Linked DNA regions of Homo sapiens: region 2 is linked to region 1. The links come from fine-mapping of genetic effects on gene expression. A gene starts in region 1. The other region holds a variant in brackets. All regions are shown on one strand. Distances are between the middles of the regions.

Region 1 (2,926 bases):
CTAAACTTCCAGCATAAATTCCTGCCAGACCAGACCCTAAGGATCACTTCTGCTAGAGGCTGTGTAGTGAACTGAGACCCACCAGGACAGAAATCTGAAAAAACTGGAGCTGCACCTGCCTTACTTGCTTGAAATACTTCGTATTCAATGGTAGAGTTAACGTCTGTGCAAGGGACAGAGGAAACCTACAATTTGCCTCAACCTAATCCCCATTCCTCAAATAGCCTGTTTTGCTGACATTTTCTGTTCCTTAAATCCACTTGCACTTTCCTCCAAGCCTTTGAGTGAGAGGAAAGTTCCTCCTCCATCTATTGAAATCCACTCTGCATTCTTCCCTGTACTTTTGGTCAACCTCCTATCCCTGCCGCACTTTATACATTTCTCTCAATATTTAACGAATTTGCTCTGTGTAGAACTTTTTTTTTCTCGTGAAAATTATACTATTCCATCTCTTGACCATATCTTAGCACTTTTTTTAATTTTTGAAAGAAACCGAGCGATTTTTAAATTATTTTCTGTGGCTACTTCCAAACTTAAGGTTTCTGGAAATTTAGGATACCATCAAGAGTCTTGTAGGCTTTCCAGGTTTGTAGGACCTACAGGGTATGCAATTCCTGTAAGTCACCAATCTTGGGGAAATTTTAGGGAAATGCAGTGGCGGGGGTGAGAGTAATCTCGGCCTCCTCAGTTTCCTTATTAGTAAATCTTTCTCTTCAGGTGACTGCTCAAAGGTCACCTCAGCGAGAGGCCTTTCCAGACTACCCCATCCCGTCCTAACGCTAGACTCGTGAGGCCCAGGGGAGAAAAGTAAATCACGGCCTAACTCTTGTTTATAGTCGCTACTGCCTTGGTGGAGACTATCTCCGATATCCCAGCACTAAAAGGCAGATCCAAGACTCCCGCAAGCTACGGTGGGTCCCCAGCCCAGAGGACTCCTGGGGGTCCCCATTTTCCGCAAGCGCCCCACTGCCTCCACGTGCTGCCCGCGCAGGTCCAGTGCCGCCGCCGCGTACTTCCGGCCGGAAGAAAGGGCGGGCTCTGTCGCTTTGCTGTGACGCACTTCCTGGCGTCGCCTGCGGGGGCGGAAACGCTTTGTCTGTCCGGCAAGCCGACGGCCCGCTGCTGGCCTCCGTGACGCGGCCTCCTCCGCGCCTCGCGGCATGGCGTCGGAGGGGCCGCGGGAGCCCGAAAGCGAGGTAAGGGCCGACGGGGGCTCTCTCGGCAGCCTCAGTCCGTCCGCCTGCCTCGCACTGGGGGCTCGGCCGGGCGGTGACGGGGCTGGTCCAGCGGGCGTGGGTCGGATGCTGGTGACGGCACGGGAGCGCCCTACCGGGTGGCCGCGATCTTCGCGCCCCGCCTCGGGTCCGCCTTGGGGTGGCGGTCAGCGGCTACAGACCCCGCCCACAGTTAGCGCCGCGTCTGTGGTGCGATGTCACCCAGCGCAGTGACTGCGGCCCAGCCCGGCGCTCCCCGCAGTCGGGGCGGGGGGACTCTGGCGAGCTTCCCGCGCTCTTGGGAACGGATAGATTGTTTTAAAGGATCCTGCGTTTTTCTGAACGTCATTCTCCGCTCTACGTACTCAGCATTACCACTAGATGGAGCCCTGGCGATCGCTTGCATCATTTTTAGACCCATAAAATTCTCGGTGAAAGTAAATCTCTTACTACGTCACTAAAAACTAAAGAAAGAAATCTTAGTGAATTGAAATTTCAAAGGCTCGTGGTGATAATATTTTCTAGCAAAGCAAGGTTTGGTATTTCAATAAAGCAAGACTTAGTGGTTCATGAGTAAAATGCATATGCTTTTGTGCAACTTTTTCAAGAAAATGTAATGGAAATAAACGTCTGCAGTGTGTTTTGGGTGCTGTAGTTAAACAGTCCACGTGTATTTGACTGCAGTAGTTGTACTGTGTGCAGTTCTATTATTTCTAAGTGAATCTGTGGTAAAAACACCCTTATTCCAAGATCTAAACTATATAATCTGTGTTGTTTTATTTCCACTTGAATTCGTTGTCATTTTTCACTTTTAATGTTTGAACTACTGCCTTTTCTACAAAAAAAAAAGCATTGGGGAGAAATCGTTAGCAAGCAGGTTCTTGTCTTTACGAGGCAGAAGTTTTTAAACAACATCGGGAACATTTCTGGGGCTATTAGGAACACCTCTTGGGTCTTTTTGTTTGTTTATATTTGCTTGATCTCTGAATGTTTGTGGCCAAAACCTCATATTTTTCCTCAGGGCATCAAGTTATCAGCAGATGTCAAACCATTTGTCCCCAGATTTGCCGGGCTCAATGTGGCATGGTTAGAGTCCTCAGAAGCATGTGTCTTCCCCAGCTCTGCAGCCACATACTATCCGTTTGTTCAGGAACCACCAGTGACAGAGTATGTATCTTTCTAAAAGTCTTACCTAGGGGCTTACATTTTGGATTTAATGGTGATTAGACTTTCAAATACTCAGCAGTTACTGCACTAAAGTTCTGCAGATGATGAGAGAATGCTCTTCAACCAAGAAGAGTCTGAGCCAGTAGCACAACTTAACTGTATCCTGTGCCAAAAACAGAAGCTTTAACTCCCCTTTTTTTTCTTCATACTCATTGTTATTTTCGGCAAAGAAATAGTAGAGACTGCATTGCATTTGTTAATAAGAAATGCAGTTTCAGGCCAGGCGCTGTGGCTCACGCCTGTAATCCCAGCACTTTGGGAGGCCGAGGTGGGTGGATCACCTGAGGTCAGGAGTTCAAGACCAGTGTGACCAACATGGTGAAACTCCGTCTCCACAAAAATACAAAAATTAATCAGGTATGGTGGCGGACACCTGTAATCCCAGGTATTCGGGAGACTGGGGCAGCAGAATCCTTTGAACCTGGGAGGCAGAGGTTGCAGTGGGCCAAGATAGCACCACTACACTCAAGCCTGGCTGACAGAGT
Region 2 (2,926 bases), 25 kb after region 1:
AATATCATTAGTCATCAGGGAAATAAATATTAATCAAAAGTACAGTGAAATACTATTTCCCACCTAGTGGGATGATTATAATCCAAAAACAGAAAATAACAGGTGTCAGTGAAGATGTGGAAAAATTGGAACCCCGTACGCTGCCGGTGGGAATGTAAAATGGTGCAGCCATTGTGGAAGACAACCTGGTGGCTACTTAACAATGCTCAATGCAGTTACTACATGACTCAGCGATTTCACTCCTCAGCATTTACCCAAAAGAAGACAGACTTAGACACTTTTACACTGGGGTTTGTTATGGCATTATTCACAATAACCAAACGGTAGAAACAGCGCAAATGTTCATTACCACATAATGGTGTAAACAAATGTGGTATACCTACACAATGTAATATGCAACCTTAAAAAAGGAATGAATTCTTATACATGATACAACATGAAAGAAACCTGAAAACATTATACCATATAAAATTAGCTAGACACAGAAACACAACTACTGTGTGATTCCACCTAAAAGAAATATCTGGAATAGGCAAATTCATAAAAGCATAGATTAGAGGATACCTGGGGCTGAGGGGAAAAGGAATAGTGAGTTATTATTAATGGGGACAGAGTATTCATTGGAGCATTAAAAAGTCTTGAAAATGGATAGTAGTGATGGTTACACAACATTGTGAATATAATTTATGCAGCTGAATTGTGCACTTAAAAACAGTTAAAATGGTACATTTTATGTCATATTACCACAATTAAAACATTTTTAAGTTATTAAAATAGGATGATTTTTAAAAATTGATCTTATTAAAAGATGAGCTTTCCACTTGATATGATGACATTGTGTAGCTGAAAATCTCCTTATCTGTAGAAGTGTCCTGAGTTTCTGAAGATCTTTACTGTCTGGGTGAGGAAGCTGCATTCCATGGAAATGGTTTACTGCCTGTGCATGGGGCACCACTGGGAACAGTGTTGAGTAGTGCTGATGTGGCTGCCTCTTTCCTCTGACACATCTTCTCTTAAGAGCCAAGACAGTTAAAACGCACAATATGTCATAAAAAGCAACATGAAAATTTTCCACCATAGGCTTTTAGATATGTTTCTTCCTTTTGAAGTAGTTTATTATTTCAAAAAACTCTACTTTTTTTTTAAATCTGTGGATCTTCTTTTTTTTAAACTTTTATTTTAGATTCAGGGGTACACATGCAGGTTTGTTATATAGGTAAACTTGTGTCATGGGGGTTTGTTGTACAGATTATTTTGTCAC[G/T]CAGGTACTAAGCCTGGTAACCAATAGTTATTTTTTCTGATATTCTCCTTCCTCCCACCCTCAAGTAGGCCCCAGTGTCTGTTGTTCCCTCCATGTGTCCATGTGTTCTCATCATTTAGCTCCCAATTATAAGTGAGAACATGTGGTATTTGGTTTTCTGTTCCTGCGTTAGTTTGCTAAGGATGGCCTCCAACTCCATCCACGTTCCTACAAAGGACGTGGTCTCATTCTCTTTTATGACTGCATAGTATTCCATGGTGTATATGTACCACATTTTCTTTATCCAGTGTACTGTTGCTGGGCATTTAGGTTGATTTCATGTCTCTGCTATTGTGAATAGTACTGCGGTGAACATTCACATGCATGTGTCTTTATAGTAGAATGATTTATATTCCTTTGGGTATATACCCAGTAATGGGATTGCTGGGTCAAATGGTATTTCTGTTTTTAGGTCTGCTGAATCACCACACTGCTTTCCACAGCGGTTGAACTAATTTACACTCCCAGCAACAGTGTATAAGCGATTCTTTTTCTCCGCAACCTCGCCAGCTTCGTTGTAGCCATTCTGACTGATGTGAGATGGTATCTCATTGTGGTTTTGATTTGCATTTCTCTAATGATTAAGTGATGTTGAGGTTTTTCTCGTATGCTTGTTGGCCACGTGTATGTCTCTTGAAAAGTGTCTGTTCATGTCCTTTGCCCACTTTTTAATGGGGTTTTTTTTCTTGCAAATTTGTTTAAGATCCTTGTAGATGTTGGCTATTAGACCTTTGTCCGATGGATAGATTGCAGAAATTTCTCCCATTCTGTAGGCTGTCTGTTCACTCTGATGATGGTTTGTTTTGCAATGCAGAAGCTCTTTAGTTTAATTAGATCCCATTTGTCAATTTTTGCTTTTGTTGCAGCTTTTGATGTCTTTGTCATGAAATCTTTGTCAGTTCCTGTGTCCAAAATGGTATTGCCTGGGTTGTCTTTCAGTGTTTTTATAGTTCTGGGTTTTACGTTTAAGTCTTTAATCCATCTTGAGTTGATTTTTGTATGTGGTGTAAGGAAGGGGTCCAGTTTCAATTTTCTGCATATGGCTAGCCAGTTATCCCAGCACCATTTATTGAATAGGGAGTCCTTTCCCCATTGCTTGTGTTTGTCAACTTCGTCATTTGTTCCTCGCTTCCTCCTTTACTGCCTTTGGTGTTAAATGTTTTTAGAGTACACTTTTGATTTCTTTGTTGTTTTTTTTAACTTTAGTTTGAAAAACTACCTTCTTAGCAGTTGCTGTAGGGATTACAATATACATGTTAGTTTATATATTGAAGAAACTTTACTCCAGTAGGTCTCCATTTTCTTCCTCCCCCTTTATGCTATTGTCATATGGTACATCTAAATAGATTATAAACCAAACACTGCAGTGTTGGAACTGCTACTTTATACAGCCATATCTTTTAAAGAAGAGAAGGAACAAGGAAAAAATATGTATTTACCAGTTTCATATTTATGATTTTAGGTGTTCTTTATTCCTCTGGATTCAGTTGCCATCTTGTATCACTTCTGGTAGTATTTCTTCTGGAGGACTTCCTTTGGTATTAGTGACACAAGCAATACTAGCAACAAATTCTCATGGTCTTTGTCTGGAATGTCTTTATTTTGCATTCACTTTTTGGAGGTTAG

Evidence for each region.
Region 2: its variant is fine-mapped to the expression of SECISBP2 in whole blood (TOPMed, PIP above 0.99). The same link has a PIP of 0.9 or more in gastroesophageal junction, testis and tibial nerve.

What each region holds. Positions count from the first base shown.
Region 1 is chr9:89,317,417-89,320,342 of GRCh38, forward strand. It overlaps SECISBP2 (SECIS binding protein 2), which reads left to right and starts at 1,084. Exons shown (of 17, transcript NM_024077.5): 1 at 1,084-1,196; 2 at 2,236-2,381. The coding sequence starts at 1,161. RefSeq lists an enhancer at 734-953 and a silencer at 1,124-1,443.
Region 2 is chr9:89,342,186-89,345,111 of GRCh38, forward strand. All of the region lies in intron 10 of SECISBP2 (SECIS binding protein 2), which reads left to right. Among named protein-coding and RNA genes, the nearest start is that of SECISBP2, 25 kb to the left of the region's middle. The variant G/T (reference allele first, on the strand shown) is at 1,262.